Linked DNA regions of Homo sapiens. The protein of the gene in region 2 purifies or fractionates together with the protein of the main gene of each other region. This does not show direct contact. Each region holds a gene or a part of one and is shown on either strand. Other genes may lie near its edges. The genes, in order: NSDHL, PTTG1IP and SLTM.

Region 1 (3,650 bases), on a different chromosome or scaffold from region 2:
CTGCTCTGAACCACCCAAAAGGATGTTGCCTCTGTGTGGATCCCACAGGCTTCTCATGCCCCAAACCCCTTTTGACTGGGGACTAGTTAGTGGGGAGAAGGTGATTAAAGGGACAACTTGGTTTCCATCCCATGTACTTCGGTATCATTGATTCTTTTATGAGAATGTATTTCCATATTGATTATAGAATTATAAGACAAGGAACCTACAAGCCACAGGTTGGAGGGTGAAAACATGAGAATGCCATTGACCTGTCAAAGCAGGAATGATTATTTTGTCTTTCTTTGCTTTTCCAGGATCTGTACCCAGCTCTGAAAGGTGTAAACACAGTTTTCCACTGTGCGTCACCCCCACCATCCAGTAACAACAAGGAGCTCTTTTATAGAGTGAATTACATTGGCACCAAGAATGTCATTGAAACTTGCAAAGAGGCTGGGGTTCAGGTAAGGGGAAGGCTGGAGTGAGTGCTGTCAGGAGCACGTGATGGCCCTTTCTAAGGGTGCAAGGCCGTAGTTCTTGCAGTCTCCCTGGGCCTAGGCGGGGTTGCTTCTTAAAGTGTTGGGAAGATCTTAGAAATGAAGCCCTTGGAGTCACTGGAGATGGTGAAGGTCTGCTTGCCAAGGCTGATTTGAGATGTAATATTCTAACTGCACACAAATAGAACATCTGAGGACCTCAAGCCTATTGGCCTTCAGTTAAAGAGCTGCAGAACTTAGACATTGCTTATATTTTTATTGTGATAAAATATATATCACATACAATTTACCATCCTAACCATTTTTAAGTGCGGAGTTCAGTGGCATTAAGTACACTCACAATGTTGTATAGCCATTACCACCATCCATCTCTAAACCTTTTTCTTCTTCCCTAATAAAAACTCTATACCCATTAAACAGCAACTCCTCAATCGCCCTTCCCTACCCAGCCCCTGGCAACTACCCTTCTACTTTCTGTCTCTATGGGTTTGACAACTATAGGGACCTCACAGAAGTGGACTCATGTAGTATTTCTCCTTTTGTGTCTGGCTTTTCACCGAGCATGATGTCCTCAGGGGTCATCCATGTTGTAGCATGTGTCGGAATGTCCTTCCTTTTTCAGGCAGAACAATATTTCATTGTATGGATGGGCCACATTTTGTTTATTCATTCAGCCATGGATGGACATCTGTGTTGTCTTCACCTTTTGGCAATTGTAAACAATAGTGTTATGAACACAAGTGTACAAATATCTGTTCAAGTCCCTGTTTTCAATTCTTTCAGGCATCTACCCAGAAGTAGGGTTGCTAGATCATATACTAGTTCTACGTTTAACCTTTTGAGGAGCCACCACATTGTTTTCCAGACCTTGCTTATATTTTAAAAGAAAAGCAAACTGTGTTTACCCTTAGCCAATAGAAACGTGTTATAACTCAGGCCTGAGGGGATACGAATTTTCTGCCCATCATAGCTTGCTGCATCGTTACCAATCCTGGTTCTTAGAATTGTCTTTAGAGGACTCCAGCCACTGGCTAAAACGGCTCCCTGTCAGCTCAGTATCCTGACCCTCACAGGGATGCATGCCACAGGTACTGCATAAATTAAGAGAAAAACTTGAAGCAAGCCAGGGGGTTCCTCTCCCAACAACCTGTCCTGGCACTGTTGGCTGGTCCGCAGCATCCTCAGCCGGCCCAGCAGGGTTGGAGCTCTTCTGGGCTTGGGCCCTGGAAAAGATCACTTATAACTGACCCCTAGCAGTTGACAAGATGCTTTGCCCTGCTGAAGTTTTCACCTAATTAGCTCCTCGTTGGGTGACCAGGGGCTAAACGATGTCTCTTTGCTAGTAAATGGGAGAGGTGGGGTCAAAGCAGATTCTCCAAGTCCCAGACTCTGCACTCAGCCATGCTGATGTAACTGGAGCCCTGGGAAGGGCCCTGCTGCTCTTTGTTAAATGGAAGGTTGGGGGCATACAACAAAGATTTGTGCCCCAGGTGTGGCGGCTCACACATGTAATCCCAGCGCTTTGGGAGGCCAAGGCAGGAAGATCCCTTGAGCCAAGGAGTTCAAGACCAGCCTGAGCAACATAGCAATACCCCACCTCTACACGAATTTTTAAAAGCCAGGTGTGGTGGTATGCACCTGTAGCCTCAACTGTTTCGGGACGCTGAGGCAGGAGGATCGCTTGAGCCCAGGATTTTCAGGCTGCAGTGAGCTGTGATCCCAACACTACACCCCAGCCTAGGCAACAGAGCAAGACCTTGTCTCTTAAAAAAAAAATTAAAAAAACAACAAGATTTGAGAATAAAACAGCACCTCTCCACTCACCACAGCATTTAAGAAACAACATTACTGGCATGTGTAATGTGTGCCCATCCTCGATGCCATTGCTCTCTTCTTGTAGCCATGGATAGCAATTCTGAATTTGGGTTTATTTCCATTTGCTCCATGTGTAAGCAATATAAAGTATTGGATTGCATGTTATAAGATTTTATACAATGATATCTTATTGAACAGATCCTCCTGCAACTTGCTTTTTTCCCCAGTGTTATGTTTTTCTTTATTCATCTTGGCATATGTAACTCTGGTTTATTTACTGAAGGGGCAGAGTGGCTTAGTGGGTAAGAGTGCAGAAAGTGATTGCTGTGTTGTATTGAAGGAACATTTTCCAACACTGAGATCAAAAGATTATTTAATGTACTTTTTTTCCTCAAAGGTTTTAAGTGTTGCTTTCCACATTTCAGTCTTTAATCCACCAGGAATTTATGTTTGCTTATGGTGTGAGATAGAGATCTAACTTTCTTCCATGTGTATAACCAGTTCAGTGCCATTTATTGCATAATCCATCCTTTCTGCATCGCTGCACACCATCTGCAGCATGTCTTAGGTGTTTGTGTCTTACATGGGCCTGTTCCCAGGCTCTCCCCTCTGCCCCATTGACCTCCCTGTCTGCCCATGCAGAGAAGCTCTGCCTTTTTAGGATAAGTCTCAGTGTACCGTAGATAAATCACGCCCCCAACCAATTTCTTCAAACTTCACTTGGCTATTCTGAGCCCTTTGTTCTTCTACATATGTTTGGCTTAACCAGTTCCTTGCTAAAGCCAGCTGAGACTGCTGTTGTAATTGTGTTGAACTTGTAGGTAATTTTGGAGAGAATTGACATCTTTCCCATATTGAGTGTTCCTGTCCATAAATATGGGATATGTTTCTGTTTATCTCGCTCTTTAATGTCATCAATAGAGTTTTATACTTTACTTCGTAAAGATTTTGCATATCTCGTTAAATTTATTTGTATGTACTTCGTTTTTTGTTATTTAATAACTTTCTATTACATTTTCAGTTATTGCTAATATATAAGACGAGTTAATTTTTGTATATTGATTTTTAATTCAGCAACTTTGCCAAACGCTAATATTTTCTACATATTTGCCTGTGTTTTCTGTGTAGATTTTTCTCTCATCTGTAAGCGATGGAAGTTCAGTTTCTTTTCAAATCATTATAAATTCGTGTTTATCTTACCCTACCACTCTGGCTAGAGCTTCTCATACAATGTTGAATAAGAATGGGAACGATATGATTCATGCTAATGGTGTTCAGTGTTGGATGAGCTTCTCTTAACCAGCAGGCTGGACGCTGGGGACCCTCATAAGAGAATATCTTCCTTTAGAATAGCATTTC
Region 2 (3,650 bases):
ATAGAGCAGTTCGTTTCTTTTTATCGCTGAACAGTGTTAGTGATTGCACAGCCGCCTAGCTCACCTCCAAAGGAGAGACACGTAAAACAGCCTTTTGTGTTTGGAATGCCTTTTCCAGAAGATCCCTTGATACGAGAGCCGCATGTTTGCTATTCTTGATGCCCTGCTGGTATCGTGTGAGTGTTCCAGTCTGTCTGTCCACCCTCCTACAGAGTGACATCTGGGCTGTGTTCAGCTTGGGGCTGTCACGGAGCCTTCCTGCGCAGGTCCATCTGTGGATGCAGGCGCCTTCTCTCCTGGATGAAATACTAAGAGTGGAATTGCTGAGTCATAGGTGGTCGCATGTTTGTTTAGGAGCAGCTGCCAGACCTTCTTTGCAAATGGTTGAGCCATTTACACTTCCACCAACACTGTGTGAGAGTTCTGTTGCTGTACATCCTTGCCAACATTTGGTATTGTCATTCTCTTTAATTTTAGCCATTCTGGTAGGTGTGTAGTCATCTGTCATTTGGAGTTTTAATTTGCCTTTGTCTGGTGACTGGTGATGAGCACAGAGCTCTTTTCAGCGTGCACTGTGTTTGTGTGTGTGTGTGTGTGTGTGTGTTATGGGATTGGAGTAGGCAGTCTGTGTGTGTGTGTGTGTGTGTGTTACGGGATTGGGGGAGTACGCAGTCTGTGTGTGTGTATGTGTGTTATGGGATTGGGGGAGTAGGCAGTCTGTGTGTGTGTTACGGGATTGGGGGAGTAGGCAGTCTGCGTGTGTGTTACGGGATTGGGGGAGTAGGCAGTCTGCGTGTGTGTGTGTGTGTGTGTTATGGGATTGGGGGAGTAGGCACTCTGTGTGTGTGTGTGTGTGTGTGTTATGGGATTGGAGTAGGCAGTCTCTGTGTGTGTGTGTGTGTGTGTGTGTTATGGGATTGGAGTAGGCAGTCTGTGTGTGTGTGTGTGTGTTATGGGATTGGGGGAGTAGGCAGTCTGTGTGTGTGTTACGGGATTGGGGGAGTAGGCAGTCTGCGTGTGTGTGTGTGTGTTATGGGATTGGGGGAGTAGGCTGTGTGTGTGTGTGTGTGTGTGTTACAGGATTGGGGGAGTAGGCAGTCAGCTTGGTTGCATGTTGGAAGTTACTCATGCAGTCGCTCTTGCTTCTGACTGGCTTGAGTTCCAGAGCTGTTGGCTGCGTGGAGTTTGACCCCTTCCTTAGTAGCAGCGCTTTGAGTAGTGGGCAGAGTCTCAGGGTGTTCTGTGTGGTTGGAGCAGGCTGGTGTGCCGGGCCTCTCCCTTGGTACAGGTTGGTACAGGGAGCATAGCCCAGTCTGGAGTGAGGCTACCAGGGGACTAAGACCTTGCTTTGTCACATGAGATCTGTAGGTGAGTCCAAAGACACAAGTGTGCTGCGTGGCAGTGTCGCTGGCGTTGCTGTGGCCTCGGATGGAGGCTCTTGGGTTCCCAAAAGAGTGCCTGCTGATGAGCAGAAGGTCCCAGCAGGTTTGTGGTTAGTGATTACACAGCCACAGGGCACACTTCCTCTCACAGAGAGATCTGAAACACAGCCTTCTGTGTTGGCACTCTTCTCTCCCAGAAGAGCCCTTGTGGATAGGAGCCGCATGTTTATACTCTTTGTGCCCTGCCTGCAGCGGGGTTCCTGAACACTCGTTCCACATGTCTTGAAGAAGGCTTGTTATCAGCAGGGGCTCAGGAAGAGGACCTTCATTTGGTAATTCCACATCAGAGGTTCTTGGTGCCACACCCCTCACTGGTGCCCACCCTGCCCTGCTGGACTAATATTTACACTGCCTGATTCTCAGTGACTGACTTGTCTCTTGCCTCTTTCCTGCAGCTTGTTCTCAGAACACAAACAAAACCTGTGAAGAGTGCCTGAAGAACGTCTCCGTAAGTAGCACGTGGACTAGAGACCAGAGTGCCGTCCAGACCGTCCAAAGGCACACGGGCTTTCTCTAGGTCCAGGGATTCGCTGGGATGTGTGGAGGGCTCTGTTGTTTGGGATTTGGGGGGATGTTTTTTGGAATCGTTATCAAATGTTATTTTAGCCATTTCAGGTATATTAAACCTTCTCATGAAAACTGCAGTTACTGTCTGAGCATGGTCAGTATCCATGATTTCACTCCTATGCAGATGGGGCCAGCACTGCGTGGCCAGTCTTCCTAACGAGGCCCATAGCGAGAAATTTGGCTGTCCGCAAAGCTACACCCTCAGGTTGTGAGCCCGTGTTTTCCCAGGCTGTCGGGCTGCAGCAGAGACTGCTTTCTCAGCTGCTCACACAGGATTGGAAGGGGCACAGCAAGGAGAGAGAGGCACCAGCCCTCTGGGCCGGTGGGCCAGGCTGTCCATAGCACTCTCTGGTCGTGACCTGGGGCTCAGGTTTGGATTTTAACTACCTGTGTGACCTTCAACAAGAGGGTAGCGGTCTGGAGCAAAGTTCCCTAAGCCTCCACGGCATGAGGTGGGGCCCGAGACTCCCCGGGGTGCCTTCCCGATGGAGACTGATGCAGATGCCCACCTGGAAGAAGGAGCACCCGTGGTGGGGAAGCAGCATCACAGTGCAGGTCTTGTTAAAGACGTGTGAACAGGGCTGGGTGCAGTGGCTCACGCCTGTAATCCCAGCACTTTGGGAGGCCGAGGCAGGTGGATCACGAGGTCAGCAGTTGGAGACCAGCCTGACCAACATGGTGAAACCCCGTCTCTACTAAAAATACAAAACAATTAGCTAGGCGTGGTGGCGGGTGCCTGTAATCCCAGCTACTTGAGAGGCTGAGGCAGGAGAATTTCTTGAAACCGGAAGTCGGAGGTTGCAGTGAGCCAAGATTGTGCCACTGCACTCTAGCCTGGGCAACAAGAGCAAAAAACTGTCTTTAAAAAACAAAAACAAAAACAAAAACGTGTGAACAGGGTCCTTTGGTTTTCTCTGCGTGGTGGCCTGCGCCTGGGCCAGCCTGGCTGGCACCTCTTGGGCTTGCCTTGCCACGCAGCTCTTGGTTCGGCAGCACCCAAGTCTCCTCGCAGCGCTATGAAATCAGCACGGGAAACCTGAGGGAAGGCCCACGGCAGCGGGAAGTGGTTAGGCAGAAAACAGCATCCTGTGGGGCCTTTTTCTTAGGATTCCTGATCTCGCCCACCCCTTGCCCCTTCCAGTCAGGAGTTTACCAGGTTTTGAGAACTGCAGGGCCAGAGGCTTCCTTTCCCCGGCAATGAGGTTTCATGATATGAGGAGGCCGGGAAAGATGTATTCGATGATTTCTATTCTAAGGCATGAGCCATGTTCTTAAAAACTCTTCTTCCTCCACGAGACCGTAGCGTAGGTTTGAGGAGGCCGGGAAAGATGTATTCGATGATTTCTATTCTAAGGCATGAGCCATGTTCTTAAAAACTCTTCTTCCTCCACGAGACCGTAGCGTAGGTTCGAGACACACCCTGTCAGTTTGTGGGACTTAAGTGGATACTTGCATTTGCTGATTAAAAATTGAAAGACGCTGTTTCTGTGGTTTCAGATCTTGACATTGGTGATGTTGAACCTGCTCTAATGCGCCTGGTCCTGGTGCATTTTCTAGATGGTGCTTCTTTTTAGTCTCTGGATTTTTCTATTGGAAGTCATTTCAGCTTTAAACATAGCTCACTATTGTATGTGGCTTTGT
Region 3 (3,650 bases), on a different chromosome or scaffold from region 2:
TTATGGATGTAGCACCTTGTAAGTGCCATAGCACTAAGTAGTACAATGTAAAATAAGTTCACAACTCCTGTTTGCTGTGCTGTCTGCATGTTGTCCTGATAGGCTGATCATAGGCCCTGCCGTGCCTTGTCTTAAGGTTTTGATCTCTGGCTGTGCCTTCTTACAGTCAATATAAGATCCAAGTATTTGAAATAATCAAGGGTCAAAAAGCCCTTGGGTGCTAGAAAATACAGAAATACAAATTAATGGCCAGGCCTGGTGGCTCGTGGCTGTAAACCTAGCACTTTTGGAGGCCAAGGCGGGAGGATTACTTGAGGCCAAGGGTTCGAGACGAGCTTGGACAATATAGTGAGACCCCCATCTCCATAGGAAAATTAAAATTAAAGATGGGCATGGTGGTGTGCACCCTGTAGTCCCAGCTAGGCAGGAGGCTGAAGCAGGAGAATTGCTTGAGCCCCAGGAGTTCAAAGTTGCAGTGAGTTACGGTAGCAACACTGTACTCCAACCTGGGCAACAGTGTGATCATGTCTCCAAAAAAAAAAATTATTTTTTAAAAAAAGGAATTGGCCAGGTGTGGTGGCTCACACCTGTAATCCCAGCACTTTGGGAGGCCTAGGCGGGCGGATCATGAAGTCAAGAGATCAAGACCATCCTGGCCAACATGGTGAAACCCCGTCTCCACTAAAAATACAAAAATTAGCTGGGCGTGCTGGTGCATACCTGTAGTCCCAGCTACTTGGGAGGCCGAGGCAGGAGAATCGCTTGAATCCGGGGGGCGGAGGTTGCAGTGAGCCGAGATCGCGCCACTGCATTCCAGCCTGGCAACAGAGCGAGACTCTGTCTCAAAAAACAAAACAACAACAACAAAAGTATTAAATCATTTCCTCCATACCCTTCCCTGAGACCTGAGTAGCTTCTCACTACAAAATAGATATAAACTCTTTTCATATGCTGCTGCACTACTCATCCTTTTATCTTCTCAGACATCTTATTAATTTGCTTCTGACATTAAAAGCACACCAATATAAGTTGGTATGAGACCAAGACTGAGGGTATTGTGACTTCTCCTTTTTTTTTTTTTTGAGATGGGGTTTCACTCTTGTTGCCCAAGCTGGAGTGCAATGGCGCAATCTCAGCTCACTGCAACCTCTGCCTCCCGGGTTCAAGTGATTCTCCTGCCCCAGCCTCCTGAGTAGCTGGGATTATAGGTGTGGGGTACCATGCCTGACTAATTTTTTGTATTTTTAGTAGAAACGGGGTTGCACCATGTTAGCCAGGCTGGTCTCGAACTCCTGACCTCAGGTGATCCGCCTGCCTCAGCCTCCCAAAGTGCTGAGATTATAGGTATGAGCCACTGCGCCCGGCCAAGTGACTTTTCATATGCTATTCTTTTAGCACTATCCTGAGGAGCGACATGTGGTTGAACGCCATGGACGGGACACAAGCGGACCAAGGAAAGAGTGGCATGGTCCACCCTCTCAAGGGCCTAGCTATCATGATACGAGGCGAATGGGTGACGGCCGGGCAGGAGCAGGCATGATAACCCAACATTCAAGGTAAATAACTAACCAGTTTTTCTGCCAGCACACAACCAACACTTTATCCTTTCCATAAAAGTCATTATAGTTTCTGAGAGACTGAATTGCAACTACTGAAAACCCTAGATCTGCCTGAACATTTCCCTGTATCAACCCGTAGTCTCCAAAAGAGTGTTTGCAGAACAGCTGATATTAATGTGTTAGTTTGTATTCTTCCTTTTAAATGAATTCAGTGACGTTCTGGCAAGTTGATATAGATATGGGTATGTACGTATGGCAGGATCCAGTAAACAATGAATTCTTTTGTTTTGTTTTGTTTTTTGTTTTTTGAGATGGAGTCTCACTCTGTCGCCCATGCTGGACTGCAGTGGCGAGGTCTTGGCTCACTGCAACCTCCGCCTCCTGGGTTCAAGCAATTCTCTCATCTCAGCCTCCCAAGTAGCTGGGATTACAGGCATGTGCCACCATGCCCAGCTAATTTTTATATTTTTAGTAGAGACAGGGTTTCACCATGTTGCCCAGGCAGGTCTCGAACTCCTGACCTCAGGGGATCCGCCTGCCTTGGCCTCCCAAAGTGCTGAGATTACAGGCGGGAGCCACTGCACTCAGTCTAGATAATGAATCTTAACCTCACATTGGAACCATCATCTTGTTCTCTACCTAGCATTCCTCAAATTCTTAGGAAGAAAATACTGAAAGTGTGTTCTGTTTCCTCCCTTTTAAAATAACTCTTGGGAAGGCTTTTAGACATTTAACACAAAATCTCTTCATACGTTAAGAGGCGAGCTTTACTTTCTCTTCACACTGAGGTCGGATGTGGCCCTTCAGCCAGCAGGTCTTCAGCTTCCCCATCTCTTTCATGTCCTCCTTTCTTTCCCATTCCTCTTTCTTAGGAGAGTTATTGGCTTGACTCAGTGACCCAGGTCACTACTATTCCATGGTCACTTCTACCATCAAACTTCAGTAAGTGTGCTACTTCTGCCTGCACAAGCTCAACATTCATTGTATCTGGTTTGTAAAGGTCACCGATGACTTTTCTCTTGATAAATATAGATTCTTTTATTTTCATGGTTGTCAGACTCCTTGGTGGTTAAACACTGTTTCACACGGTCACTTATCTTTATTTTGAGGGAGTCTGTTTTCTAGGGCACCATCATTTTCTTTCTGCCTTTGTGACTGCCTTTGCAGGCTCCTTCCCGTGGCTAAGCTTTAGACACTGCTGTTTCCTTTCAGCTTCATGTTGCCACTGCCATGTAAGTGCTTTGCTGTTTCCATGAATTCAAGGTCACAGTCAAACTCATTCCTCTCCTTTTTCAAACCTTTGTGTCCCTTTTGTTGCCTCCAGTTTCTTTCAATTTGATAGTGCCACCATCCATTTCATTCACCCTGACTGGAAATACGGGGCTTGTCCTTACCTTTCTTCATTCCTAGTATAAATTTCTAAGTGTGGTTTTTTTTTTTTGAGACAGAGTCTTGCTCTGTCCAGGCTGGAGTGTAGTGGTGCAGTCTCGGCTCGCTGCAACCTCTGCCTCCTGGGTTCAAGTGAATAGCTGGGAATACAGGCGTGCACCACCACGCCCAGCTAATTTTTGTATTTTTAGCAAATGGGGTTTCACCATGTTGGCCAGGCTGGTCTTGAACTCCTGACCTTGTGATCTGCCCACCTCAGCCTTCTAAAGTGCTAGGATTACAGGCATGAGCCACTGCGCCCGGCCGTGTGGCTCTATTTTTTTTTAAATGTTTCTCAGGCTGGGCACAGTGGCTCATGCCTGTAATCCCAGTACTTTGGGAGGCCAAGGTAGGTAGATCACTTGAACTGAGGAGTTTGAGACCAGCCTGGGCAACATGGTAAAACCCTGTCTCTACAAAAAGAAAGTTTATCATAGCTATCCCTTATTCCTCATTTTAGCTTCTATCTGATCTTCCCAATTATTGTGTTCCATTACCCCATTTGTAAATTGAACTGTTGAAACTCCCATTTTATTATACCATTTATTGCTCTAAAACCACAACAAGCAGCTGCTCCAGGTCACAGGATTGAGCCCAGATTCCTCAGCCTGGCCCTTATAATCTAGTTTTATTCTGCCTGAACCATTTCACTGTAGATTTTTT

Evidence for each region.
Region 1: the proteins of PTTG1IP (region 2) and NSDHL fractionate together in Homo sapiens (co-fractionation; one large-scale study listed by BioGRID). This does not show direct contact.
Region 3: the proteins of PTTG1IP (region 2) and SLTM fractionate together in Homo sapiens (co-fractionation; one large-scale study listed by BioGRID). This does not show direct contact.

The regions. Positions count from the first base shown.
Region 1 is NC_000023.11:152,858,474-152,862,123, forward strand, and holds part of NSDHL (sterol-4-alpha-carboxylate 3-dehydrogenase, decarboxylating), read left to right. Parts: intron 1-296; coding exon 297-443; intron 444-3,650. UniProt on the Homo sapiens protein: Catalyzes the NAD(P)(+)-dependent oxidative decarboxylation of the C4 methyl groups of 4-alpha-carboxysterols in post-squalene cholesterol biosynthesis. Also plays a role in the regulation of the endocytic trafficking of EGFR.
Region 2 is NC_000021.9:44,863,635-44,867,284, reverse strand, and holds part of PTTG1IP (pituitary tumor-transforming gene 1 protein-interacting protein isoform 1 precursor), read left to right. Parts: intron 1-1,837; coding exon 1,838-1,890; intron 1,891-1,896; exon of another isoform or gene 1,897-3,317; intron 3,318-3,415; exon of another isoform or gene 3,416-3,492; intron 3,493-3,650. UniProt on the Homo sapiens protein: May facilitate PTTG1 nuclear translocation.
Region 3 is NC_000015.10:58,881,532-58,885,181, reverse strand, and holds part of SLTM (SAFB-like transcription modulator), read left to right. Parts: intron 1-1,395; coding exon 1,396-1,556; intron 1,557-3,650. UniProt on the Homo sapiens protein: When overexpressed, acts as a general inhibitor of transcription that eventually leads to apoptosis.